Homo sapiens: one gene and its partners. The protein of the gene in region 1 interacts with the protein of each later gene in a pairwise test. Each region holds a gene or a part of one and is shown in the gene's direction. Other genes may lie near its edges. The genes, in order: ZNF232, VBP1, ATXN10 and PPCDC.

Region 1 (7,212 bases):
GGCCCGCCCGTCCCGCCGCGCCGCTAGCTGTCCCCTCTGCCTGGCCTCCGTGCCTTGCGCCCCTTTGTGCCGTCCAGCCCTACAGCTTTGAGGCCCTTTCGGCGCACGCACCCCGCCCCGATCCCCCGGCGCTATCCCAGCCTTGACGGCCGGGGAGGCTTTCCCTAGCCCGGCGCCTCGAGGACCGCCTCAGTGGCCAAAGGCGGCGCGGGGTGCGCCCGGGCTGTGTCCCCGGGAGGCTGGACCGCCAGTCCGCGCATGAGGCCATCTGTGAGGCACGAGTGCAGGAGAGTGAAGGAGACCGGGGCGTGCTGAGTAGGGACCTCCCTCAGTGACTGGAAGGTTATTCATGGGGCCTTCTGACACTCTAAAAACGAAATTTCTCCGGGGTTTGATGAGTATCAGGGTGGTGGCTTCTTGAGTTTTGAGCAGGCATCACAAATCAATCCCTCTGGAATACAGAACTGCCTCTGTTCCGTTTTGGGTTTTGTGTGTGTGTGTGTGTGTGTTTTTGGAGACGGAGTCTTGCTCTGTTGCCCAAGCCGGAGTGCAGTGGCGCCATCTCGGCTCACTGTAACCTCCGCCTCCCGGGTTAAAGCTGTTGTCCCGCCTCAGCCTCCCGAGTAGCTGGGATTACAGGCGCCCCCCACCACGCCAGGCTAATTTTGTATTTTTAGTAGAGAGAGGGTTTCACCATGTTGGCCAGGCTGGTCTTGAACTCCTGACCTCAGGTGATCCACTGGCCTCGGCCTCGCAAAGTGCTGGAATTACAGGCACGACCCACCACATCCGGCCCTCTGTTCCTTGTTTCGAAATAACTCAATTAAAAGTCAGAGGCTCACTGGCCACATCTCCTTCCACCCACCCACCGCCCCACCCCCCAAAAGATGCCTCTAGCAAATAAAATGAGACGTCCTGATGCCTTCCTGGCTCGTTCCAGAATTTTTAGCTTTGACTTTTGACGTGGGGTCCTTCTACCTAAAGTCCCCGCCGTCACATCAGCCCCCAGTTTTCCTCTGTCTTAGCTCGGGCTGCCGTAACAAAATACCATAGACTGGATGCCAGACAACAGAAATTTATTTTCTCAGTTTTGGAGGCTGCAAGGCTGTGACCAGGGCCCAACATGGTCAGGTTCTGGTGAGAGCTCCCTGGCTGCCTTCTCACAGGGTCCTCACATGGCAGAGAGAGAGGGACCCAAAGCCCTCTGGTGTCTTTTTTGTTTGTTTGTTATTTTTTGGGACGGAGTCTCACACTGCTGCCAGGCTGGAGTGCAGTGGCCCGATCTCGGCTCACTGCAACCTCCACCTCCCAGGTTCAAGTAATTCTCCAGCCCCAGCCTCCCAATTAGCTGGGATTACAGGCACCCACCACCACACCCGGCTAATTTTTGTATTTTTAGTAGAGAGGGGCTTTCACCATGCTGGCCAGGCTGGTCTCGAACTCCTGAGCCCAGCTGATCCACCCGCCTCGGTTTCCCAAAGTGCTGGGATTACAGGCGTGAGCCACTGCGCCTGGCCAGAACTCAGTCCTTACAGAACATCAGAGAATCCATACAAGGTGAGAGAGAGGCCTTATAAATGCATTGGGTGTGGGAAAGATTTGAAGGGGAGCTCACAACTTATTCAGCATCAAAGAATTCACAGTGGAAAGAAACTTTGTGAATGCAATGAATGTTCAAAGACTTGTAATCAGAGCTCACACTTTATTCGACATCATAGAATTCATAGTGGAGAAAAGCCCTATGAATGTGACAAGCATGGGAAAGCCTTCAGATGGAGCTCAGACCTTGTGAGGCATCTGGAAATTCATATTGGAGATAAAGTTTTGGAATGTAGCGAGCGTGGAAGAATTTTCAATCAGAGCTCAGGTCTAATGCAGCACCAAAGAAACCATACAGAATCATAACCCTAGGAAGACAGTAATGATAAAGATGTCAGTATGTACATATAGGAAGAGAGAAGGAGAGTTTGTTTTTGTCCTAACTATTTGGAAAATTGTAAGCTTCCTAAGAGCAATTTTCATCTGATTCAGTGTATAGTACTTAGTCTCAGGTCATGTGCAGATATGTCCTTCCCAAATGCTTACCACAAGATAAATCAGAAATCTTGACTGGAATAAGCTTCTAGTTCCTTTGCTTTATCATGAGAGGTTCCACACCACAGGAAAATCTTGTAAATGGTGGAAGCTGCATAAAGCACCATCATCATCACAAAATGGTGTCCTTGTGTGTCCTGTTTAGCAGCACCGAGAATCTAATAGCTTTCCCCTTGTCTGTTTTTCCTTACTATGAATTGTGCCAGGGGAACAGTAAAATGGGTATGATATCCTGAACTCTAGGGTGGATGTCTTTCTGGGACAGAATCTAATCCAAAAGTCTGCAAATGGACTTGAGGTTTTCACATTAGTATAAATGTCAATATGTAGTTTAGGGAATTTGCCTTATTCCTCCATTCCTAGCAAAATTAGATACAGAAGCAGCTAATTAAATCAGGAAAAGGAAACTGACAGTAAGTCATAGGACCCATTGTCTTCTCTCATGTAAAAGTAGAAGTTGTGATTCAATCTGTTCTGTAGGATTTAAAAGTATAATGGCACATTGAAGTTTGACATACTGAAATTCAGGCTCTGTCAATTTCATCTCTGTAACCTTTATTGTTTCTGAGTCTTGAGTTTTCTCATCTGTAAAATCAAGATAATGACATTAATACAATCCCTTGTGGAGCAACTGTGAAGACTAAATAAGACAATTTCATTAAGTTCCTGGCATAGTTCTAGACACGTAGTAGACATTCAACAAATGATAACTATTTTTATCCATAGCTCCTACGTGCAGTAATTATCAATGGCACTTTGAAGGAAAAAAGATAATATATCCCCCAGCCATGGGGGTGTCAATGCGCATTTTCAAGGATACTATATCTTGGAGAAACAAATTTAATAATCTGAGAATCTGAGAACTGTTACTATGGTACTACACAGTTGAACAACAATTTTTCTTGGAGAGACTAGGATTAAGCTATTTTATAAAAGTATTGAGAGACTGGATCAATCAATATCCTGCAAAATTGATAGTGAGATAAATTTATTTTTAATTAATTTTTTTTTTGAGACGGAGTCTCACTCTGTCGCCCAGGCTAGAGTGCAGTGGCACAATCTCAGCTTATTGCAACCTCTGCCTCCCGGGTTCAAACGATTCTCCTGCCTCCTGAGTAGTGGGGACTACAGGCGCCCGCCACCACGCCCAGCTAACCTTTTTGTATTTTTAATAGAGACAGGGTTTCACCATGTTGGCCACCATGTCTCAAAAAAAAAATAAAAAATAATCGGCCGGGCGCCTGTAAACCCAGCACTTTGGGAGGCCGAGACGGGCGGATCACGAGGTCAGGAGATCGAGACCATCCTGGCTAATATGGTGAAACGCCGTGTCTCCTACCAAAAAAAAAAAATTAGCCGGGCGTGGTGGCGGGCGCCTCTAGTCCCAGCTACTCAGGAGGCTGAGGCAGGAGAATGGCGTGAACCCGGGAGGCGGAGCTTGCAGTGAGCCAAGATCGCGCCACTGCACTCCAGCCTGGGCGACAGAGCAAGACTCCGTCTCAAATAAATAAATAAAATAAAAAATAACAACAACAAAAAAACACCAACCCCTATTTCCCCCATCGCAATAAAATTAACCTTAGAATTCTTTTTTCTCCTCCCCTCCCCCTACGCCCCAGGAATTGTACAGGCTAGTGGTTGGGGAATATTTTTTCGTGGAAGGGACCGTCTTCCTTAGCTGTGGCCCTCTCATCAGGTCTGGGAAGAGGTAATTGGAAAATAGAACTCATGGAGAAGTGTTACCACAGGCCATGGACAAGGCCAGAATTTCCCTGACATCTGTCCGCCAGCACCGCCCTTCAGGTACAATTCCACAAGAGACCCCCCAAACTTGATGAAGTCACCCGCTTACAAGGGCTCACTCTCCACCTGCGCAAGGACTGCAATTCCCAGGGGCCTCCAGGGCACCCGGCCGCTCCAGTCCAGTCGTGCAGGCGGCGCGCTCTTTCTCGCTCCGCTCAAGTCCAGGAACCGGTTCCCGGGCTCCCAGCCTCTCGGCAGCGCCCACGCGCCTGGGCCAAAGTCCGCGAACGGAAGCCGGCGGCGAGGAGGATTCTGGGAGTTGGAGGCCGAGGCTGCGACCTGCGCAGGCGCAAACCTGCCCCTGGGGTGAGGGCTGTAAGTGGCGCGATTCGCGGCAGCGCCCCGATGGAACCTCCTGGTCCTGTGAGGTGAGTGTTGGCGGCGGCTTCCCCGAGGTCCACCTGGCGGCTTGGCTTTTGCCCGTCCCGCAGGCAGCGGCGGCTCTGCAGTGAGCAGGCCTGGCAGGCAGCTCCGCGGTTGTGTGTGGAGAGGGGTTTGGGTTGCCCGTGGTGCCCGCGCTGCGCTACCTGCGTTGCGTCGCGTCACGTGCCGTGGAGGGGGGTCTTGATGTTCCTCTTCTCTTTTCTCGAGACCCTTGGGTAGGGAGTGAAGGGTGGGAAGGGGAGTTGTACCTGGCCTGGACGACAGCCCCCTCCCCGGGCGGGCACCTGCCCGAGGCCGGGGTAGAGAAGTTTTGCTGGGGCCAGCGGCGCCGGGCATCACCCTGGGAGACGCGAGCTCCGCGTTTTTCCTCGCGCCTCCTTTGTCTTAGGCCAGCGGTCCCCCTTTGTGCTCCTTTCGTGGCCTCTGATGCGTTCCACCTCCTTCCCTGTGTGAAAGGAAAATAAAATCTCAGGACCCCAAACTTACTATGACAAAGGGAAAAGTTAAGCTTGGAAACTGAGTCACGGAAAAAAACTGCTTTTCCTTTTGTTCCTAAACCGATAGCTGCAAGATAGAAAGCAACATATGCCCCCAGGTGGCCTCCCTCACCCTGGCAATGGAAACGAACAGCCGAGCTTCACCGGACAAGACTAGAAATCGTTCCTCCACCCACCCAGAGACAAAGCATATTTGACTTCTTCCTCTACTGTATGTCTACCTTATCTTGTGTAAAATGCAGATTTACTGAGCACGAGACAAATTCATAATTGACTTCCTCTTTTCACGTGCAACATGTGGATTCAGTGAGCTCTAATCAAATCCTCACAAGAATGTGGCCACTTACCTCACCACATACCCTCCCTCTTCTCTCCTCCTTCCCCTCCTGCCAGCTTTCTCCCCATTAAATTGAAGCCCTCAAAACCCTCTTTGGTAAAAGTGCGAGCCACGGATCCTACTGTGGCTTGTGTGTCTTTTTCCTGGGTGCATCCTCAACCTTAGCAAAATAACCCCTAAATTGGTTGAGACCTATCTCAGATGCTTTTTTGGTTTACACCTGTTAGATTTCCTTGACGCAGGCCACTGTACCCGAGACTTGTTCATAGCTGCCCCTTAATAGGGCTTTGGCATTTGAATGAGATCCAGCTCCTTAAAGGGGACTTATATTTTTCTTTTGCTGTAGCTACTACTTCAGAAATTTTTGAAAGCAGGGAGGAGCCATCTCAGAGGAGGCTGCCTCCCCAACACATTCCACCTTGCACTGAAAGCTGCTCGGCTCTGGGCTCTGCATCTGGAAACTTGGGTTTTGCTTCAAACTTATTTCTTCCAATAGTCATTTCTTCCCATAGGCCCCCAGAACTTTTTTTTTCTTGATACATTTTTCCTGTCAATGGCATTTAATTAGTTGTATTATAGAAAACCACTTTACATCCCCGTTTCTACCACGGTGCAAGTTTCTCAAAAACATTGACTTAGTGCAGCAGAATTCTGGGGAGGGGTGGAAGAAAAAGCGGGACTACAGGGCATAGGACAGGGTTTGGCTCTTTGGAGTGTTGAGTATATGTATATGTTTAATGAATGAAAAAAGAAGAGGAGGACGGGCGCGGTGGCTCATGCCTGTAATCCTACCACTTTGGGAGGCCGAGGTGGGTGGGTCACCTGAGGTCAGGAGTTCAAGACCAGCCTGGCCAATATGGCAAAACCCCGTCCCTACTAAAAATACAAAAAAATTAGCTGGATGTGGTGGCAGGCGCCTGTAATCCCAGCTACTTGGGAGGCTGAGGTAGGAGAATCGCTAGAACCCCGGGGGTGGAGGTTGCAGTGAGCTGAGATCATGTCACTGCACTCCAGCCTGGGTAACAGAGAAAGACTCTGTCTTAAAAAAAAAAAAGAGGAATGATTTCTTCTTATGTTACAGGGGGCCCTTGCAAGATTCCAGCTGGTATGAGCCTTCTGCAGAGCTAGTGCAGACTAGGATGGCTGTATCACTAACAGCAGCTGAAACTCTGGCCCTTCAGGGTACACAGGGACAAGAGAAGATGATGATGATGGGACCAAAGGAAGAGGAACAGTCTTGTGAGTATGAGACCAGGCTACCTGGGAACCACTCTACCAGTCAAGAGATCTTCCGCCAACGCTTCAGGCATCTCCGCTACCAGGAGACTCCTGGTCCCCGGGAGGCCTTGAGCCAACTACGAGTACTCTGCTGTGAGTGGCTGAGGCCAGAGAAACACACGAAGGAGCAGATCCTGGAGTTCCTGGTGCTGGAACAATTCTTGACCATCCTGCCTGAGGAGCTCCAATCCTGGGTGCGGGGACATCACCCTAAGAGTGGAGAGGAGGCTGTGACTGTGCTGGAGGATTTAGAGAAAGGACTTGAACCAGAGCCGCAGGTGGGAAGGGGGATTTGGTCTGTTATGGGAGCCAGATTGATGACCTTCAGGCTGGACCGAGGGGCAGCTGTAGGGGGAGGTGCCAAGTTCAAACCTCTCTTGGGCCAGGTAGAGCAGTTAGTATGTGTTTCTGTGTCTGTCTTTTCTGCCCTCGAGCCCTGAATGAGAAAGAGACTCTAGCTCCTCTTCTTCCCTTGTGCTGACTCTGAGGAGGCTCTCTAAAGTCTCCTTGGAAGCTTTGGTCCAAGGAGGGTCACATCTGCAAGTGTCCAGGCAGGGGACAGAAACCACACTAGTAATTTGAAGAAAATTTAAACTGAGTGGTGCCTGATCACCTCCAGGTCCCAGGCCCTGCACATGGACCTGCACAGGAAGAGCCATGGGAGAAGAAGGAATCTCTGGGAGCAGCCCAGGAAGCACTGAGCATCCAGCTCCAGCCTAAGGAGACCCAGCCTTTCCCAAAGAGTGGTGAGGAGCAGGATTCTGTGGGGAGGGAGAGGAGAAAGAGGGACTATAAAGGGCACAGTACCTAGTACCTGTA
Region 2 (6,908 bases), on another chromosome or scaffold:
CATTCTGCTGCCAGCCAGAAAAAGTTCTCTGCTCTTAAGGGCTCATATAACTAGATTAGGCCTACCTAGGCAGTCTGTATATTAAGGTCAGCTCTGACAAATGATGTAAATATCTCATCAGAGTCACAGATTCCAGAGATTAGAATGAGACAGCTGTTATGGGAGCCATAATTCTTGCCTACTATAGAAGTCAGTCACAAAAGAGCACATATACTGTGTCATTCTGTTTATGTAAAGTTGTAATACAGGCAAAACTATGCTGTAAGTCAGGTTAATGGTTACCTTTGCGGTGGGGGTGCTGGTGGTAACTGAAAATGTTCACAAGGAAGCTTTGGGGTGTTGGTGATAACCTGTCCTTGATCTGGATGCTGGTTCCATGAGTGTGTTAAGTTTGTGAAAATACATCAAGCTATATATTTATGATATGAATACTTTTCTATATGTATATAATATTAAATATAAACAAAAAAATCAGAAAACTGCATAAAGCAAAGTGTAAGTGAACGAATCTGTTGTCAGGGTTCAACCGGAGAAATAGAACCAGTAGGATATAGCTAACCTGCATAAACTTGTGTGCAAAGGTTCAGGTTAATATGTGTGTACCTCATGGTTTCATACTGTTACCTCCAATTCAAATTCAGGACAACAGAGTTTTCACTTTAGTTGTTCCTCTGTTTTTTTTTTTTTTTTTTTTTTTTTTTTTGAGACAGAGTCTTGTTCTGTCGCCCGGGCTGGAGCGCAGTGACGTGATCTTGGGTCACTGCAACTTCCGCCTCCTGGGTTCAAGTGATTCTCCTCCTTCAGCCTCCTGAGTAGCTGGGATTACAGGCACGTGCCACCACGCCCAGCTAATTTTTGTATTTTTAGTAGAGACGGGGTTTCGCCATGTTGGCTAGGCTGGCCTTGAACTCCTGACCTCAAGTGATCCACTCATCTCAGCCTGCCAAGTGCTGGGATTACAGGTGTGAGCCACCGCGCCTGGCCCCCCTGTTTCTTCTATATCAAGAATCCTGGTTTTCAGAAATACCAAGGGTGATAGAATTAAGCTAGACAACATTACTATTCACACGCAAAGCATTCTTAGAATAACACCACCCAACACTGTTACCACTGACATTTTTGCATATGTTCTTCCTGTCCTTACACATTCTTTATAAGGTTGTTCCCACATTGTTGGAGCACAGAGCCATTATATACTGTTTGCTCTCTCTCTTTCTCTCTCTCATCTTTCATTTATCCTAGTTCTTCGTGTAAATATTGAATGCACATCATAGTCTTTATGTTGATGTCCCCCCAGTCATCATCCAGTCATTTTGATTGTATGTTACTCATTCGTCTGATAAGTAGATTGCCTTAAGATTTATGGGAATGATATTCCCTGAGTTATCTCATGTTGCTGACAACTTGTCTGTGGCCTTTGTACTTGAAATTCAGTTTTGCTGGATATAATATCTTAAACTCACATTTTATTTCCTTGAGCATCTTATACAGTGCCCCATTTTCTTTTGTTGTAAAGCATCACTGTCAAAAAGTGTGAGGGCAAACTGATTTCTTTCTTCTATGAGTGATGTGTTCTTTTTGCCTGGATGCTCAAAGGACTTTTGGGTCAGTTTCCCCCAGGTATACAAAGTACCCTTTCATTTCATTTTGCGTGTCATTTCACCCAGTGTGTGTGTGTGTATGTGTGTGTGTGTGTGTGTGTGTGTGTGTAGTATGTGCATGTGTCACATTTCAGGAACATTTTGTTGAAATGAAGGATTTAGAAATTTTTTTGGTCCCCTGCTTTGGTTTTTTTTTCTTTGTGGATTCTTGTTATATTTATGTTCAGTCTTTGCTTATGTTGAATATTTTTGTCCTATCTGAATTTTAATACAGTTTTCTAATTATGGATTGGATTATTTGGTCAATAAGTATTTATTTGGCATTTACTTTGTGCCAAATACTTTCATGTTGTCTTGTTTAATCCTTACAACAATCCTTTGAGTAATTTTAAAATTGCATTTGTGAGATGAGGAAAGTGGTTTAGGAAATGCCAGTGGTAAGTCAGGTGATAGGGAGAGTTCAAAGCTGTAAAAGGTGTGGCTTCCCAATTCCAGGGTACATGCATCCCTGAATGTTGGCAGTAACACTAGATCTTCAGAATGACAGACACATTACCTTGTCTTAATCCCTAACATCTGTCAGAAGTAGTAGGAAGGGACAGGTAAAAGCTAGCTGTCTTTTTTACCTGGTCAAATATAGATGATAATAAATGTCTTTGAAAAATTTTAAATTAATATCATATCTCAAGCTCAGAATTTATTTAAATTGATACAAACAACACTATTTAGTTTCACGATGGAGGTAGTAGAAAGATAGGATTTTGTATCTAAACATACTGGTTTCTTATCCTGATTCTCCCATTTACCCACTAGCTATGCCAGCTAAGGAAACCTGAGCCTTCATTTCTTTAACTGTGAAGAAGACAACTTTGGCCTCAGCAGGGTTGAGGATTAAATGATACAATGTATGTAAATATATTCTTTAACCAAGGGGTCAGCAAACTTTCTGTAAAAGGTCAAATGGTAAATATTTTTGGTTTTGTAGATCACATGGTCTCTGTCTCAACCACTCAGTTTTGCCATTGTGGTATGAAAGCCTGAGTAGAGAATAGCTGGGCTCCAGTGAAACTTAACTTACAACAAAAGGCAGCAAGCTGGATTTGACCTGAGGGCTGTAGTTTGCCCACACTTTACTCTAACCTATAAAGCTCTGTGTAAATATTGAGTAATTGTCATGACTTTCTCTCTTCAGGCTAATGTAATGCTTGAATATGATATTGATGAAGCTCAGGCATTGTTGGAAAAGAATTTATCGACTGCCACAAAGAATCTTGATTCCCTGGAGGAAGACCTTGACTTTCTTCGAGATCAATTTACTACCACAGAAGTCAGTATCCTTTCTTAAAACAAAAAGCAAGGGAAAAAAGGAGAAAGATTTTTTTAAAAAAACATTCTTTCATGGGCAGAGGGAGAGCATTAGGAAAAATAGCTGATGCATGCTGGGCTTAATACCTAGGTGATGGGTTGATAGGTGCAGCAAACCACCATGGCACACGTTTACCTTTGTAACAAACCTGCACATCCTGCACATGTACCCTAGAACTAAAAAAAAATTAGAATACAAAAAACCTCCCACATTCTTTCTTACATTGCTTTAGTGGGAAGAATTTCCTTATTAGGCTAATATAAAGGTTATAGATTTTATAAGATAATAAATAAGATATTCGGAACTAGTACTTAAATAAGTTTGTAGATAGATTAGTGATTTTGAAATGTGATGTGGAAACAGCAAATTCACATAGGTGAGTAAGTATTTTTCTTCCAAATATTTTCCCAAGACAACTTTATAACTGGTTAAATAGTTTAATTTCACAAGCATTTAAGGGTCTCCTATGTTCCTGCAACTGTGCTAAGACATATGGGGCATGAAAATCAATTTTAGAAAAGAGTGGCAGTGCCTTTCTCTGGTAGAACTGTACATGTAAAACAGCTGAATGATAATTCATAGCAAACTATAAGTAAGTTAACATATGCAACACCAAGGCAATTTAAACTTTGGGAAAGATAGATGTAGGCTGGACTTAGTTCAAAGAAGGCTTTGTTGAGAAGATAAAAGTTAGGCTGCTTTTTTAAAGGCGGCGTAGGGTTTAAAGATCAGCAGAGAGAAGAGGTGGGAGTGGGGTATTCTGGTCAAGGGGGAAGGCAAGCTCTTTGCCTTTCTTCTCTGGCCTGTCTTTTCCTCCTACTTCCTGTCACAGTCACTCAAGACAAAATCACGGGAGTCACCTTTCACACTTCTCTCTTCCTCACTACCAATAATAAATCAGTCGCCAGATTCACATCAAATTTCCCTCATAAATCTCTCTGCCCATTACTGTTCTCGTTCTGGGGCTCCAAAACCTGCACTCAGAACCTTTTTAGGTTCCTCTCATTCCATCTGTCCTTCCCACTATCTCTAGTATGAATTTACTAGGTCACTCATTTTTATTCCTCTGGTTACAATATTTCAACGGTTCCTTGTTACTTACAAGATATACATATAGGCACTCTTGTGAAGTGCCCCCAGCTTGTCTCACCTCATGCCACTGACCTCTTCTTGCCTTTCCCCAGTGCATTCCAGGTTCCAGATAACCCCAGTCAGTTATTGTACACACTCCCCAATTGTGCCACACCCTTTGCATTTCTACACTTTGTTCCTCCTAACTGGAATGACTTTCCCATATTTACAGGATGTGCTCTTTTTTTACCCTTTTACCCTAAATATCTCAGTCCAAGCATCAGAGCTTTCCTGAACATTTTCTGATCCTCAGAGTGTTTCTTGTGTGCTTGCTTAACACATACTGCTTAGTTTTACCTTGCCAAACCGTGAGCTCTTCAGATGTAGGAGCTGCACTTTCTCTTCTTTTCCAGTGTGCAGCATGTGGCAGTTGTTTATGGTTGGCTGAGGGAAGGCAGGCCTGTTGGGGCCTAGTGCAGTGGTCATCATCATCTGACGGGTAGTGTGGAAACTTCATCCAGCTATGAGATGACGAGGGCCTAGGACGGGTGGCTTGTGGAAAGGAAAAGATATTAAACGTGTGAGAAAAAAACAGGATCCAGTGACTTAGATGGGTACAGGAGCCAAAAGTGAGGAAATCCTCTAAGATGAGTCCTACAAGCTTAGTTAAATGCCATTTGTTATTGCTAGTACTGCAAAAGGTAGGAAAGGAAGGTGTGCAGACAAGTGAGGGAGCTAGGGTGGACAGTCTCTGTTACATTGACATTCTACTGGAGTCTAAGCTCCACGAGGAAAAGAACTTCACCTGTCTTATTCAGGTCAGGGCTTTGTACAGTGCCTAGTCAAAAATACAGTAGATGCTTAATAAACTTGTTAAGCCAAAGGGAGGGTAAGAGATAAAATTATTGATAATTGTAATAATATAAATATTACATGGCAGGATATGGGTTGAGTGATCTTTCAGATTTCTTGGATGAGGGACTGTCTTTAAAACTATCGAGAGTGTCTAGTACATATTTGTTAAATATATCATAGTTGACTAGCTGACAGTTGACTAATACCATAGTAAACAATGGGTTAACAATTAATTTGAGTCCTTAGTTTTGATAGAGTTTAATTATAGTATTTTCCTAACAATTGACATTATAGCAGGATGTCTTACAATACTATTTGTTACCAGTATTTGTATATGTTTCATTTCTGTGTCTTTGATTCATTGTGTGAGTGGAGTGAATACTTAGTCATTGCATGCATTATCTTTAGAATTGCATTTGCATTTTCTTTGACAATTCTTGCAGATATGGCCAGGGTTTATAATTGGGATGTAAAAAGAAGAAACAAGGATGACTCTACCAAGAACAAAGCATAATGCTGGCAATTAAAAATGTGGTTTAGTTTTCCAAACATGTTATCTTAAATACCCCTTTATCCTTACAGGTTGACATAACTTTGAATGTTTTAACAGCAAGAATTTTAAGAAAAGATAAACACCATTTTATTTATTTATAAAAACAAAATTAGTTTCAAATATTTTTGACATTGTGATTTTTTTTTCCACATTTCTCAGCAAAGCTAATGGTATTTTAATCATTATTTTTGCCTGTCATAAGAAAACTCTTAGCTGAAATGGCCGAAAACTGTGAGACATGCTATGGAAGCTGAATGCCGGACGCTAGCACAGTTTACTTTTTCCCTTTCTAATTGGCTGATGTTACTCTCACTTGATGTGGTTAAACCATTTTAGAGGTAGAGAAGACAGACAGTTTGAATATTTGTAAACTTGTTTTTCTTTGGTATATTTAGGACTTAGTGGTCCTCTGTTGCTATTGTCTTCTATAAGTGGAGTTTCATGACTTACTGCTTAACGAATAACTAACTACTATGATATTCTGGACATTTTAGGAAATGGTAATTTGCCTTGCTACACATTAAGAGGGCTATTAAGACTACATTTTTTCTAACCTCAGATAAGTGCAGTGTCTTTGCAATGCCAACATAAGGGAGATCTTGGCCAACGTGAAATAAAATTACTCATTCAAAACTCTGCCTAAGGTGATTTTGTAGTTCTTAACAGTTCTCCAGAGCATCTTGAACAGGAATATTAAGATAAATGTGAATCTGCAATGGCTGAAAAGAGTTGTGAGCTTTTTTATTCATGATAAAACCTTATAGGAATAGTATAAAAAATCCCTGTGGAAAGCTACTAGTACATTGACCAGCGCTGGGTGATACAGATTCTGATAAAAACATAAATGTATTAGTTCATCTCCATGTAGTAAAAAGTATACTTATACAATGTTTTGTACTTGTATTTCATGAAATTAAAACAGTGATGCTAAAACTATGGCAGAGCACTTTTTTCATGTTACTCTTTGTCTTACTATGTTTGGGCTGCTATAACAGAATACCACAGAGTGGGGGGCTTATAAACAGCAGAAATTTATCTCTCCCAGTTCTGGAGGCTGGGAAGTCCAAGATCAAGGTGCTGGCAGATTTGGTGTCTGGTAAGGGCTGTGTCCTGGTTCGTAAACGGCACCTTTTCACTGTGCCCTCATGTGGCAGAAGGGGCAAGGAGCTCCCTTGGGCCTCTTTAATTTGGCACTAATCTCATCATGAGGGCTCTGCCCTTATGACCTACTCACCTCCCAAAAGCCCCACCTCCTAATACCATCACCTTGGGGGTTAAGATTTTAACATAACAATTTTGGGGTGACACAAAGATTCAGACAATAACACCTTTTTAAAGTTAACATGGGTCTTTTCACGTATTTGTAAAGTTTACTTGTACATATACTAGCATGTTCCAAGAACAACTTATATTTCTAGAAACACCATAAAATCCCTGTGGAAGGAATACAGATCTGCAAACA
Region 3 (7,026 bases), on another chromosome or scaffold:
GATTACAGGCACCCACCACCAAGCGTGGCTAATTTTTATATTTTTTTTTACTAGAGACGGGATTTCACCATATTGACCAGGCTGATCTTGAGCTCTTGACCTCAAGTGATCTTCTGGCCTCGGCCTCCCAATGTGAAGAATGTTATCTTTATGGACTAACTTTATAATCTCTGCCACATTTTGTCAAATGATGGGTACTTTAAAAATGGGGTTCAAAATCTATACAAAAGTTACATTTAAAATTTTTGTATAGACTACTTAATGCTATGCAGTTGGTACTGGGTAGTTTCTTGGTCATGCAGTGTATTTGATAAATTATTTAGTAGCTATGTGAAGTAGCATTTTCAAACAGTACTGTCTTTCTAATCTACCAAGATATTGCATAGAAGTTCATATTTACCCAGAAATTATGCAAGTTCTTAAAGCCAGAGTTTTTTCAACCACAGCATTTTACAGGATTTCTGTGGACAAGAAATTAATGTATTTTATGGGATATTTGTATCTTTAAAGTGGAATTTGCATGCTGGGAATGCTTTAAAAAGAAAGTATTTGCATAAATGTCATGTACATAGCTAGTAATTTTGAACATTTATTCCACTGTTGGAATGTCTTTTTGCTTGAATAAGAACTTTTCTGACTCTTTGCTCCAAGAAGACACATAATGACACATAATCTTGCATTCTTGATGGCAGATGTCTGCTGTTAGTGAAAATGATGAGTCGTGTACATATTTCATACTTCTGTTTTGTTCTTCATAGTTTTGTTTTTCTCTTTGACTTATTACAAGCACAGACTCTTTAAATTTATTGAAATATTTTATTCTCTTACAGTTATTTATAACAGTTAAATAATTTCTCTTAAAATATGCTAAAAAGTTATGTTTTCTTTTCTTTCTAGGAGGCACTGGCTACAATTAGGCTTCTCGACGTCCTGTGCGAAATGACTGTGAATACTGAGCTGCTCGGCTATCTGCAGGTTTTCCCTGGCTTGCTGGAAAGAGTGATTGGTGAGTGAAATATCACACATTGTATTTTTAGCTAAGAAATCTTTGGCTTGTCATACTGTAATATAAATCCAAATACAAATCCTTAATTTTCAGTGTACTTTGGGAATTTTGTGAATATATTTTTTTGAGAGGAATCACAGTGTTGTAACAGTTCAGGCAGGCCAGATAAACCTGAGCCCATGTGTTTGTTCAGCCACTTCCCTTCTGTTAACTGAAGATTCCTTCTCAGTAATGTGAGGATAACAATGCCTGTTATGCATATAGTAGATGTTTCATCAATATAGGATGTGATGAAGAAGGTGGGGCAGGCAGGTTTGCGATGATGATTGTGGTTTTATATTACTATAGCTTTGTAAAATGTGGCAGTAAATTTTTCCCATTTACATTTAGTGAACACATAGAATGGTGTTTTATACATATTATATATACAAATCTTATGAGAAAAAGGTTTTAAACAAGAAACCATTGTTAAAAGTATTACCAACCTTGCTAAAAAGCTGTTTGCAAAATAATTCAAGTAGAACCTGTTCCTTGTGGCTAGCCATGCTTAGGTTTGCTGTTCATTATTTGCAATTTTTTCCTTTAAAAAGATGATACTTACTCTGGAGACCAGTGTCCTGAGAAAGATGACTTTGTGTCTAGCAGTATAGATGAGCTAGCAGTCAGCTGTAGAGGAAGATCCTTAGAATTCCTCATCAGTGTTGTATTTTGAGTACATTGCTTTTAGTGATAATTTAAATAAAACACCACAAACCTAGCACACTTGAGTGATTATGGAAGGAGCCTGAGTTTGGAGCCAGGGTCGATGTGGGTTGCCATCCCAGCTCTGCCAGGTGCCAACTTTTCTGAGCCTGTTGTTTTCTTCATTATAAAATTGGGAAAGTGATACCTTCCTGTATAGGTTTGTTGAGAGGGTTAAATGAGATAATGTGGAAACACTGAAATGCAGTTCCTGGAAGATTGTCTGTTTTCATTGGCTGCCTGGAGGTGCTCATAGAGTAGAGCAGTGGTAAGTTCTTTCTCCTGAATGTAGCTGGAGTGAAGTATAGAGAACATATGCTGGCTTCTGATGATTTGGCCAGTTGGATGAGGGAAAAATAAGCACTCTTCTTGGTTTCTGTCATATGCATCATTATGGATAGATATTGTGTTTTAGACTTCATTGACTGAAGTTATTAGAAAAGTTCTTTCATAAAGAAGTTGAGATTGGAAACCTTTTTGTAAGAAGGATGCTAGCAAACTTTTAGCTAACTTTTTTTGTAGATAAATAGAAACTCTGAGTTGGGGTAGTCATTATGGCTTATCTCCCCAAAACTAGAGTCAAAAAATTTAAAGCAAAGGCAGAAGAGCCTTCTAATCATTTTTTGAAGCAAAGGCAGAAGAGCCTTGTAATCATTATTTAAATAAAGCTTTCTGTGCTCTACCTTTAGCCTATTACAATAAATTAGATTTGTCTATGGAAAACTATTAGTACAACATACTAAAAGTTACTTTTCTGTGGAAAATGAAGTTTACTCTTTTGGTTATAGATCTTTTGCGGGTGATTCATGTAGCTGGAAAAGAAACCACAAACATCTTCAGTAATTGTGGTTGCGTGAGAGCAGAAGGTGACATCTCCAATGTGGCCAATGGGTTTAAGTCTCATCTCATTCGTCTGATTGGAAATCTGTGTTACAAGAATAAAGATAACCAAGACAAGGTAAGAGGATTTCTTAGTATGTATTATACATGTATGGCTTCATTTAGAATATAGTCCTTGGAAGACATTCACTCTTTTGGAGTGAAAGCTTGAGGTGCTTAGAAAGTAGCTTGGATAGAGAGATATATATTTTATATGAATACACACACACACACACACACACACACACACACACACACACATATATATACACACACACACGTGTGTGTGTGTGTGTATATATATATATGTATATGTTAATATATAGGCTCTTTGGAGCCTAGACAAATTTCTAACACACAGTAGATATTTAATAAACACTAGTTATTATTGCCTATTATCTTAAAAAACAAAGCTTAGATCTATATCCTATGTTTATGGACGATAGCATCATAAGCCTTTTCTTCTAGATGTTTTAAAATGGATATAAAAGGAATATAATATTTAAGTATGAAGTCTTTGAGGACCTAGTAGGCTGCTTTTAGAAACCTCTTATGTGCAGAAGAGCTTAAAGGTAGTTATATTGAGAATGTGAGAGAATGGTAAGAAAGATCTCAGGGCAGTTGGACCACATGCTTCAGATTGATCTCGCCTTTCTGTATTTTTCTGGAGTTTTACTTCGGGTGGCATTTGATTTGCTTAGTTAAATATTAATTAAATTTCTGCCAGATTATATTTTTCTAAGATGGTGGCAGAATGTCTTGCATTGTACATGTGTGTCTGCAGTATGACTTTGCCACTCCCCTGTCGAGGGTTGGCATCTATTTCTCCATCCACTTGAATCTGGGCAGGCCCTGTGGCTGCTGTGAGCAATCAAATATGTGATCCTATACCATTTGTAGCATAGCCCTTAACTGGTCTAGCTGATTCTATTTCTGGCTTCTTAGAAGCCCGTCACTATGTAAGAAGTATAGATTCCCAGAGATCACCTTGCTGCGAGTTGCTGAATACACATGGAAAAGCCCTGGAAGATAAGATACAATGAGGAGAGAGGAAAGGTCTGGTGAAGGAACATCAAGGCATGAGATGTGTGCGAGAAACCATCTTGGGAGTAGATCCATCCTCAGTTTCTTACTTGCCCAGCTGATGCCACATAGATCAGGGCCCCCCTACTGGGCATAGTCCTTCCTGAATTTATGACCCATAGTATTATGAGAAAAAGTAAAAAATAGAAAAAAAAAATAAGGGATATAGGTCCTGCTTCAGTTAGTAGCCCAGTCAGTTACTGTTGGACTGATCCTTCTTCAAATAGCAATTATAAACTTTGGACAAAAAATAGCCATGTGAAGACACTCGAATTTGACACAAACGGGCAGATTCTGGAGTGAAATTGATGCTTGGAAGAAGGGAATGACACAGTGTGTGGCATGCAGGGCAGTGAAAAGTCAGTTACAAAATCTTCCGTCTTTCTAGCTTGAAGAATCAAAGAACAGTTTGAGGGCAACCATGGCATTGGAAAGTGAGGGGGGAATTGTGGAAAGTAGAAAACAGACCCCAAACTCTGGGTGTCAGCTACCTAAATCTCTGCTAATGGCTGAATCACACGTGTGGGGCAGGCTCCAGGCAGCTAAGCTAAGGATGAAGTCATTGTATTGAGATTTGAGCTCCCACCCTAGAGTTTATAGTATTAAGTCCAACTTACACTGTAGATAATTAATAATTGCCCTCTAAAAAAAAAAATCAACACTCTTTAGAGGAATATAATATAATCCAGAATTGCCACAGCATAATGTATCCTGTAATGTCCAGGATACAGTTTACAATTGCTTGACGTTCAGGAAAATGTGACCTGTTCTCAATTGAAAAGATGATCAGCGGAGACTGACTGTGAGAGGACACAGATACTGGGCTTAGCAGACAAGGATTTTAAAGTACCAAATGTAACCGTGCTCAAGGATGTAAAGGAGATACGCTTCATAAGAGTGAAAAGGTGGGATATCTCAGCAGAGAAATAGAAACTATAAAAAAGAACCAAATGGAAATCCTAGAACTGAAAAATACAGTATCTAAAATAAAAAAAAAAAAATACCGAATGTGCTTAACCTCAAGAAAGATCACAGAGGAAAGAGCCAGTACACTTTAAGATACATCAGTAGAAATCATCTAGTCTGAAAAACAAAAGCGGGGAGAAAGATTGAAAATAAAACGGCCGCTTTAGGATGCTAAATGTTAGGGTAATTTGTTATGTAGCCGTTGATAGCTGGAATAATTCCTGTGAGACATGGCGCAGAACCAAACGCTAGACAACTTGCACTTTTAGTATATGGGCGCACCATTTTGGCAATCCTCATCTTCAGGAGAGTGAGACTACTGATTCCCCCCTTGGGAAATTACTGGACTGATTTTTGCAAAAGAAAGTTGATAGCGAATAAAGCACTTTACCTTTTTAATGACCAGGACTGCCTTTCTTGAGCACAAAAGAGGTGGTTTTTCTTGTGTTTAACTATTCTTTTGTTGCTAATTTGGACTGGCCTCTTATAGGAACAAAATGCAGTAACCCTTAAAAGGCTTGCGAAATAACTCACTGAAGTCAGGATCAGATTGCACCATAAGTAAATATGGAGTGTGCCCAAGTGCTGCTGTGCAGAGGTCACTGGGGCGCACAGGAAGTCGATGGTGTGTCCTGTCACTTGTGCAGTTGCTAATAGCACTGCTGATTTCTCAGCAAACAGTTTAGAGGGTATGAAGGAGTTCATTCTTTGAGTATCAACTCAAATGCCCTCTGTTTCTCTCAGTTTCTTACGTGTGTCAACAAAAGGCCTGAACCTGAAAGCATTACCTCTGGGATTTTTTTCCTCCTTCCAAAGACCGACACAACGCCGAAATCTTGTTCTGGATGTGCTAGAGTGTTCTTTATTCTTGTAGCCAAATCCTTGTTCCAGCTGGGTGTTACAGATATTTGCCTTGCTCATTGTTGCCTCAAGGGATGGAATTCACTCGCACTCAGATGACTTTGGTTATAGTTTTGGGAAAATGGAATGGATGGTTATGTAGCAGGTCTTTATCACGGGACCAGTAATTCTCAGTGTTTTGTCTTGATGGATTGTCTCACTTCTAACCCAGCTAGGGCTTTAAGGGAAATTTGGCTCTGTCTCTGCTCCAAGACTAAAGATCTGAGTTGGGAGGGATTTCGTATCATCTAGCCTAATTTGGGTTCCTCCTTTGCCCAGAAGACAAAAGGGACTGATGATTTATTGTTTAGTGTTTACTATGTCCTTGCATTGTGCTTAGTGAATTACATATATTATCAACTTTAATCTTTGCATCAGCCTTGCAAAGCAGGTTCTGGTAACCACATTTTAAGGAGAGGCCATCCAGTTAGGTGCAGAGCCCAGGGTAGAATTTGGATTTGTTTGCCTATTGAGTTCCCAGGCCTGTGCTCACTTCCTGCCCCATGGTGAGAACTTGCCAAAAGGTTGGAGAAAAGGGTTTAAAATAGACTTCCTGCAGGACTTCAGGCTGGAGGCTGGTCAGTCTGCGTCTCCTAGGCCAGCCAGGCCCCTTAGACTCCCTCCTGGTTGAAGTTGGGAGCTCTTGGGGGTCCTCTTATCCTTGTTTCTGATTCACCCATTCATCAAATACGAATGTTTGCTGGCTTGGGGATCCTTTGACGGGTAATTCAGGCAAGGTATTAATATCTTCTGTGGAGCTTCCATTCTGGCATCATCTGGGGACCATGCTTGCCTCTTTGAATCAGAATCTCAAAACTACTCATGACACAGATTTTCCTAAAATCTTTGTGTACTGCCTGATTCCTCTGAATTTTGAGCAAGACTCTTTCAAGCCCAACTGTGTCTGTGTTGTCTGTGTAACTTCATCCATTGCAGTGAGTATGGTGCCCACCTGCTGGATGGCCCTCTTACACTTGTGTGGCACTTTCCATTTTCCAGAGCTCTTTTCATCTGCTTTAGTTTGTTGGAGCCTTATGATACCTCTGTGGAAAGGGCTGAAAAGATATTTCCACCATCATTTTCTAAATGAAGAAACCAAGGCCCCGAGACCAAGTGTGATTTAACTCAGCTAGCACTTGCTGAGTGAGAATTGCCGTGTGCTGCATGCTCTGGAGAAGACAGTCGCTTTAGTGGTGGAATGACACATGTCCACTAGGAGCTGTAGCAAAAGTCCGTGTGGTGAGGCCTGTCAGAAAGGAACAGGGGGGTGATGTGTCCTCTGGGCTGGCTGTGCCAGGAGCATTTCTCTCTAAGGACAGGCACTGGACTGCCAGGAGCATGGTATCAACTGGAAGGATGGTCATCTTTCTTTGAGATACTTGTCTTTGGGCAAGATTTAAGAGAATCAAGGTACGTTGCCTCAGATTGAAAATCTGCACAGAAATGTATTT
Region 4 (7,026 bases), on another chromosome or scaffold:
AATCCTGGGCAGAGAGGCTAGAGAGCCAAGGGGCCTGTGAGTGAAGAGGAGATAGGCCCCTGTGGATGCTCAGCCATGGAGGTAGCCATTGGACAACTCACCAGCGCTGCTTCCTGGGCAGCTGCCTGGGTTTCCCTTGCCATGCTGATTCTTTTTTGAGTGCATCTTCTAGGACCTTCTGTCTTGGAAGGAGAGCCCCTTACTGCTCTCTTTCATGTATTGACTCAAAGTTTCTGCTGGAAGGAGCTTCAGAGATCATCTGGTCCTACCTCTGCATTTTTCAGATGAAGGGACAGGTCCAGGGAGGGAATGACCCTGGACCAGGGTCACTCCAGGTCAGGAGCACACCATGGTCAGGGCCCAGGGCTTCTGCTTCACAGGCTAGGTATCTGTCTTCTGCTCACACTGCCTTGGAGGGTATAGTTATTCATTCAGCACCTGTTCAGGACTGCCGGCTAGTGGACTGCTGGTTGGCAATTAGACCCGGTCACACATTCAGGGAGCTTGCTGGTGGAGGGAGAGGCAAGGAAACTGATGTGTTAATTGAGTCTGTGATCACCAAAAAGGTGCATCCCAGGGAAGGACTGATCTCAAATAATTTCAGACAGGTGTCATTCCTGTCTTCTCAAACTCAACCTACAGATTCCCCAGAGGCAGCTACTGTGTTTTCCACAATTCCTTTGCATGGTGTTCTTTGTAATCGGTCCTCAGTGATGGTTGCTGATGAAGCACGTTCTGCTGGCCCAACCCGCCACGTGTAGGTTTTGGTGTCCATCAGCCATATTATCATGAGTGCACACTTCTAGCAACGTCTGAGAGCCAGAGGAAGAAGCAAACCAGCTAATCTCCTGGGGTGGCCTGCATCCCCTTTATGCTGGTTTCTTCCTGGGCTTTGATTTGTACGGTGGTGCCCATCTTGATTAACAGGGACAGGGACAGAGAGGCAAATCTCTTGGCTCCCTGGAGCACCCAAACCTCCCTGTTGCCCAGGGTTCCACCTCATGAGCATCTTTGGAACCCATCCCTTCCTGCCGCTTCCTTTCACCAGTCAGCCCAGTCCACCGCAGCAGCTCCTCTCGCCCTCCAGTCTCTCCACTAACAGGGTCCCTTTGACACTGTCACCAGGTGCCAGCACCGTCTTTCTAAAACCAAAACTCCTCACCCTGGCCCTCGCTGCCCACGGCATTCTGGCCTCACCCTGACTTTCAGTCTCACTTTCTGCCCCTCTACCACCCCCCATCACAGTCCGGCCTCACTAGTAAGCCACTCCCTGTTCCCCAACCTGCCACCCTCCTCAGGACCTTCACCTTGGCAAGATTGTTCCTTCCTTTGAAGTGATTTCTTCCTGTCTCTGAAAAACTAACTCATCCTTCAGGACTCAACCCCAATGTCATTTTTTCTGGGATGCAATCTCTGACTTCTAGAGATGGTCACCCTGAGCAGCCACGCACCTGGTACAGCCCTTCCCCACAGCACTGCATCATTCCCTTGTGACTGGCCCATGTGTGGGGAAGGTGTCTCACTTTCTTATCAAACTGTGTGCTCCCTGAAGCCAGGACTGCTGATCCCTTCCGCTGCCTCAGCCTCTGGCCTGGGGCCTAATACGTGGTGCTCCATACATTCTGGTCGACTGTATGAATGAAGGGGGTGGCCCTTGTTCTCCTTTTAGATCCTAAATCCCGACAGCTTTATAGAGCCCAGGCCTGGCAGGCTCCCAGAACTTGAAGCCACCAGACCCCACATGGAACCAAAGGCCTCCTGTCCAGCTGCTGCACCCTTGATGGAGAGAAAATTCCATGTTCTTGTGGGTGTCACGGGGAGTGTCGCAGCCCTGAAGTTGCCTCTTCTGGTGTCAAAGCTTTTGGACATTCCTGGGGTGAGTATCCTCACCAGATAAGCATGGCAGCCTCCGGCATGGGAGGCCGGTGCTCCCGGGGATGGCCCATTGCTCTGCAGTACATGCAATTTTCTTTTTCTTTATCATGTTAATCATGCTTGTGGAGGTCCTGTGTGTGTGGTGCTCTGTGGAGGATTCAGGAGACAGAGACCAGTGCCCAGTGTAACCAGGGGCTAGATTAGATAGTACAGACAGGGCATGAGGGGAGACTGGGAAAGGACCCAGTGAACGGAGGGTTTGGGCTCCCATACATTAACCCTGAGAATCCGTGAAGTCCTGTGTGGGAGGAGGGCTGGCTGGAGAAGTGCAGCAAGTTCTCAGTATCCCCTCCTGCCTTGGGCTTCCCCATCCCTGCTTTCATTCCGCCTTGAACACTGCGGCTGTGTTCTCCCTCCTCGTGAGACCTCATGGTTGTCTTGTCAGTCAAATGCTCTGAAACCCCATTGTCTGAAGCTCTAGGTTCAAACTTTGCTCCTTCAGGTGTTCAGAGCTGCCCCAGGGGCCCCCGACTGTGTGCTGGGGTGAGGGACTCTAGCCCCCGTCCTTGGCCAGACCCTCAACTTGGATCTATTTTCTATATTGGGGTTCTGGTGCAGAAGTTCAAGGCTTTAAACAGCGTGAAATCTAACAGGGAGTGGCCCCACTTCCTAGTTCCACCTCCAGGGCCCTTAGTTGGTCTGTCTTATCCCCCTTGGTCTTTGCGTGGCTGGGCCCTGCTAGGCTGGCTGCCCTCTCTGCTCCTCTCTCGCCTTTTCACATTCTGTGCAAAGCCTTCCCTGTCTGCCCCAGCCCAGCCCCTGTGGTTTTGGCCCCTTCTTTTAAACTTATTTGACATAGAACTATAGGTTGCCTTAGACACTGCTGGTGTTACTGGCCCCTAGTTTTTGGTGGGGTCTTGTGAAGTTGCTGGGCCCCAGGCCTGGCTTTTCCCTCTTGTTATCAGCTGAGCACCCAAGGTGCAGTGGCCGTATCTGGCATGTCCAGCAGGGGGCGGTGCTTACTCACAGATGACCACGTGGTCACATCAGCTGGGGCTGGGCTGGGAAGTGTTTCACTTTTTTACTTTCCACCAACTTCCACCCAGAAAGTCACCCCATCACCCCACCCCCAGGGCTGGGATAAGCCATGAAGCTGCCAGCCAGGGATGACAGCCAGGCCAGAGTGGGGGAGGGAGGAGAGTCTCGTGGCACTCTGACACTGGGTGCTGCACTTTTAGGGCAGTGCTGCTTAGGCCCAGCCACCCGCTGTGTACCCAGAAGCATTGGTAGGAGCTGCCCAGCTAGAGCCGTGAGGGTGGGAGGCCTCTGCCACCACCCCCTGGGGAGGGAGGGAGCCATGCAGTTCCCTTTTCCCATAGCCCCAGGGCAAGTGAGTTTCCGGACTAGGGGTGGATAGGGGCGGGGAGTCCTATCCCAGGAAACAGATGGGCAGCCTCAGAGCGGAGGGAAATGGCAACCCTACCGCTTCCTCCCATCCCACGCAGCCAGCGTTTGGTGGGAGGGGGGTTGTGAGGAAAGGGTTGCCTGGAGCAGGGAGGTGCTCCAGCCCACCCCAGGGCCTTTTAGCCTGGGCCCCATGGGATGGCAGGCCATGTCTGGAACAGGACTTGGCTTCCCCTCTCTGGTTGGAGTTGATGCCAAAAGTGAGGCAGCCAGAGGGCACTGAACTGGGAGGGAGGGCTCCCCGACTCAGCCTCTTGGAGCTTGCCTTTCCCATTTGAAAATAGGGCTGATTCCTGCTGCCCATCCCCCAGACTCTTGTCAGGCTCCCTGAGATGTTGGCTGGGGTGGGAGGGGTCACAGATGAAAATGGTCCTGTGCCAGTGACTCAGCACAGAGCCTGGCATGTTGAAGCACTCGGTTGTGTGTGTTTCCTGGCCATCACCCTGTCCTTTCCCCTTGTTCATGTCCTTTGGGCCAGCCACATGGTGTGGGGCAACCCCACTGGGAAGAGCCATGGAAGCCACAGTTCACCTGCTCTTGTGGAGGGCCCATGCCTTTCATCTGCAGGGAGACAGCTCTCCAAGCCTGGCCTTGCTTATTAGGGCCCTCGTGAGGTGTTGGGATCCAAAGGTAATCCCTGGATTGCCTTGTGTTGGCCCCAGTGGTGGCGTCTATCCCTGCACACTCCCCTTCACTCCCTGATGGCCCTGATCTCCACATTGCCTCCTGCTGGATCTCCTGCAGGAGCATCATTGTCCCTTGGAGCAGTCACTTTCAGCTCTTCACCTGCTGAGTCGTGGGTTCAGGTGCTCAAGGCTTTCCGGAACTTCCTTAGGTACATCCAGATTTTGTCTAGCACATGAACAGCTGGGGTGTGGGCTGCAGGGAGCTGGGGGATTCTACAGATCTGGCCCATCACTGTTCCTGATTGACCAGTATGTCCAGACATCCCGGGAAAGCCGCTAATGTCAAGGTAGCCAAATCAGGGAGACTGTGAGGGGTGGTGGAGAGACATGGATTAGCCACAAGCCACACACACCAGCAGTCAGGGAGAGTAGTCACTAGCAGAGATGACCTTGAGTATGTTGGGGCAGGTGGGCAACCGTGTCACAAGAGAGGCAGCTGAGCACATTTCTGACGCTGGGACCCTGGGCAAGTCCGTTCTTTTTGGCCATAATTTTCTTATCCACACAGTGAAGGAGGGGCAGGTTCTCAAATGATCCATCTCCAGGGCCTCTTCTGGCACTGGTGTTAGAAGATTCTAGATGTGAGGGCAAAAAGGACTAGGACCCAAAGGCAGCCTGAGAGAAGGTCCTGGGGCTCAGGAGCTTCAGGATGCCGGGGGTTTTGTAGTTCCGTAGTTGTCATGTAATTGAGTGGCAGTAAAATCCGGGTTGTCAGCTCAGGCAGTTTCTTCCCTGGGGTTGGCAGCCTGGCCCATGCAGGGGAGCAAAAATGGCTTTCCTCCATCTTGCTAGGCTGCTTGGCTGGGCTATGAGTTCAACTGACTTATAAACAAAATTAACAGGGCCGGGCGCGGTGGCTCACTTTGGGAGGCTGAGGCGGGCGGATCACTTGAGGCCAGTTCGAGACCACCCTAGCCAACATGGTAAAACCCCAGCTCTACTAAAAATACAAAAATTACCCGGTTGTGGTGGGCGCCTATAATCCCAGTTACTCAGGAGGCGGAGGCAGGAGAATCGCTTGAACCCAGAAGGCAGAGGTTGCAGTGAGCTGAGATCATGCCACTGCACTCCAGTCTGGGTAACAGAGCAAGACTCCATCTCAAAACAATAACAACAAAAAACAAGATCAACAGGAGAAAACCATATTTAGTTACATATCTGCACATGGGTGTACCACAAAATATGAGATTCCCAGAAGGGTGAGATGGCTGAAGCCTGTATAGCAGCCTGAGCTACAGAAGGAAATAGGGGCTTGGGGCTTCTGGGGGTGGTGGCGACACAAGTTATGGGAGGGTGAGGGGAGGAATTATACGGTCTTGTTAGGCAGATAAAAACCTCTCAGATAATAAAAGATGCCTCAGCAGATTGTCAATAAGTCAGTCTTCCTTTCTCAGGGAGGGGGACTCAGGACAAGGGGAATCCCTCTTTAGGCAGATAAGAGAAGTTCAGAGAAAGTTCCTCCCTGCATTTGTTTTTCCCCCAGTGCCTTCAGGTTTGAAATAATCAGCATACCAAAGCCGCATATTATGGGGTGGCATTTCCTGAACTCCTTCATCCACACCCTTCAAACTTGGGAGGAGAAGACAGACATCGCCCTAGCTTTTGCCAGGGCAGGTGTCAGCAGAATTCAGAGCCAAAAGGGGATTTCTAAAGATAGAGAAAACCCCCAACTCAAGGAGTCAGCAGGCCTCGGGCTCAGAGAAGGATACATTTCTAGGGTGTCTGTCAGGACATCCAGGTCTGTCGAGGGTGAGGAAAAGAAGGCTCTGCTCATATGCAGTGTGGAGTAAATTCTGACTTTCTGGAGGACCACTTGACAATATTGAGAGAAATTAAAACATCTTCATAGTCCTTGATTTACCCACAGGATTAAACTCTGTGGGGTGTATTTACAAAGTGAAAGGATGTCCATTATAGCATTATTTATAATTTCAAAGCAAAACTGGAAGCAAACAAAATATCCAGCAGTAGAGAGCTGTGGTGCCCTTATGATTTATGGGACAATCTCTCAGTGGATTACTTGGCAATGATTCAGAAAAATGGGGTGGCTCTCTCTGTGCTGAAGGGAGCAATCATCAAGATGGAAGCGGAATAAGCAGGGTGTAGGAGCTAGCAAACTGGACCCCCCCCCCCAAGGCCAAATTCGGCTCTGCCTGTTTTTGTATAGCCTACAGCTAAGAATGATTTTTACATTTTAATTTTTATTATTTATTTTTGAGACAGGGTCTTGTTCTGTTGCTCAGGCTGGAGTGCAGTGGTGTGATCACTGCTCACTGTAGCCTTGACCTCCCAGGCTCAAGCAGTCCTCCCACCTCAGCCTCCCAAATAGTTGGGACTGCAGGCGTGCCATCACACTCTGCTAATTTTTTTGCATTCTTTTTGTAGATACAGGATTTTGCTATGTTGCCCAGGCTGGTCTCAAACTCCTGGGCTCAAGTGATCTGTCTGCCTCCACCTCCCAAAGTGCTGGGATTACAAGCATGTGCCACTGTGCCTGGCCTGATTTTTACATTTTTAAATGATTAAGTCAAAAGAAAAATAGTATTTTATGACTCGGAAAAAAAGTGATATGAAATTCAGATTTCATGTCCAAGACAATTTATTGGAACACAGCCATACCCATTCATTTACGTATTGCCTATGGCTGCATTCGTGCTACTACAGAGTTAAATCATTACGACAAAGCCTAAAATATCATCTGGCCCTTTATAGAGAAGGTTTGCCGACCCCTGGTATGCAGCCTGATTCCTTCTGTGTGTTCTTATACTGAGTTACTGCACACAGTTTTTTCCTCTGGAGGTGGTTACCCTTGTGAAGGGGGACCAGTGGAGGAAGGGAAACTTGCATTTTTCATTTTTGTATCATTCTGTTCAGTTTTAATTTGTAACCTATGTGTATATTTGTGTGTGTGTGTTTTTTTGTTTGTTTGTTTGTTTTAAGTCAGTGGGGCTTTTGGTGGGAATATTGGGGAACATTCTTGATAAGTTTGTGCTTTTTTTTT

The links.
Region 2: the proteins of ZNF232 (region 1) and VBP1 interact in binary tests that used the Homo sapiens proteins (3 or more experiments, as listed by UniProt).
Region 3: the proteins of ZNF232 (region 1) and ATXN10 interact in binary tests that used the Homo sapiens proteins (3 or more experiments, as listed by UniProt).
Region 4: the proteins of ZNF232 (region 1) and PPCDC interact in binary tests that used the Homo sapiens proteins (3 or more experiments, as listed by UniProt).

Annotation. Positions count from the first base shown.
Region 1 is NC_000017.11:5,108,853-5,116,064, reverse strand, and holds the start of ZNF232 (zinc finger protein 232), read left to right. Parts: upstream 1-4,186; 5' UTR 4,187-4,242; coding exon 4,243-4,265; intron 4,266-4,845; exon of another isoform or gene 4,846-4,989; intron 4,990-6,196; coding exon 6,197-6,671; intron 6,672-7,012; coding exon 7,013-7,139; intron 7,140-7,212.
Region 2 is NC_000023.11:155,233,436-155,240,343, forward strand, and holds the end of VBP1 (prefoldin subunit 3), read left to right. Parts: intron 1-2,793; coding exon 2,794-2,932; intron 2,933-5,336; coding exon 5,337-5,407; 3' UTR 5,408-6,406; downstream 6,407-6,908. UniProt on the Homo sapiens protein: Binds specifically to cytosolic chaperonin (c-CPN) and transfers target proteins to it. Binds to nascent polypeptide chain and promotes folding in an environment in which there are many competing pathways for nonnative proteins.
Region 3 is NC_000022.11:45,737,834-45,744,859, forward strand, and holds part of ATXN10 (ataxin-10), read left to right. Parts: intron 1-897; coding exon 898-1,006; intron 1,007-2,535; coding exon 2,536-2,705; intron 2,706-7,026. UniProt on the Homo sapiens protein: May play a role in the regulation of cytokinesis. May play a role in signaling by stimulating protein glycosylation. Induces neuritogenesis by activating the Ras-MAP kinase pathway and is necessary for the survival of cerebellar neurons.
Region 4 is NC_000015.10:75,026,578-75,033,603, forward strand, and holds part of PPCDC (phosphopantothenoylcysteine decarboxylase), read left to right. Parts: intron 1-1,669; 5' UTR 1,670-1,741; coding exon 1,742-1,876; intron 1,877-7,026. UniProt on the Homo sapiens protein: Catalyzes the decarboxylation of the cysteine moiety of 4-phosphopantothenoylcysteine to form 4'-phosphopantotheine and this reaction forms part of the biosynthesis of coenzyme A.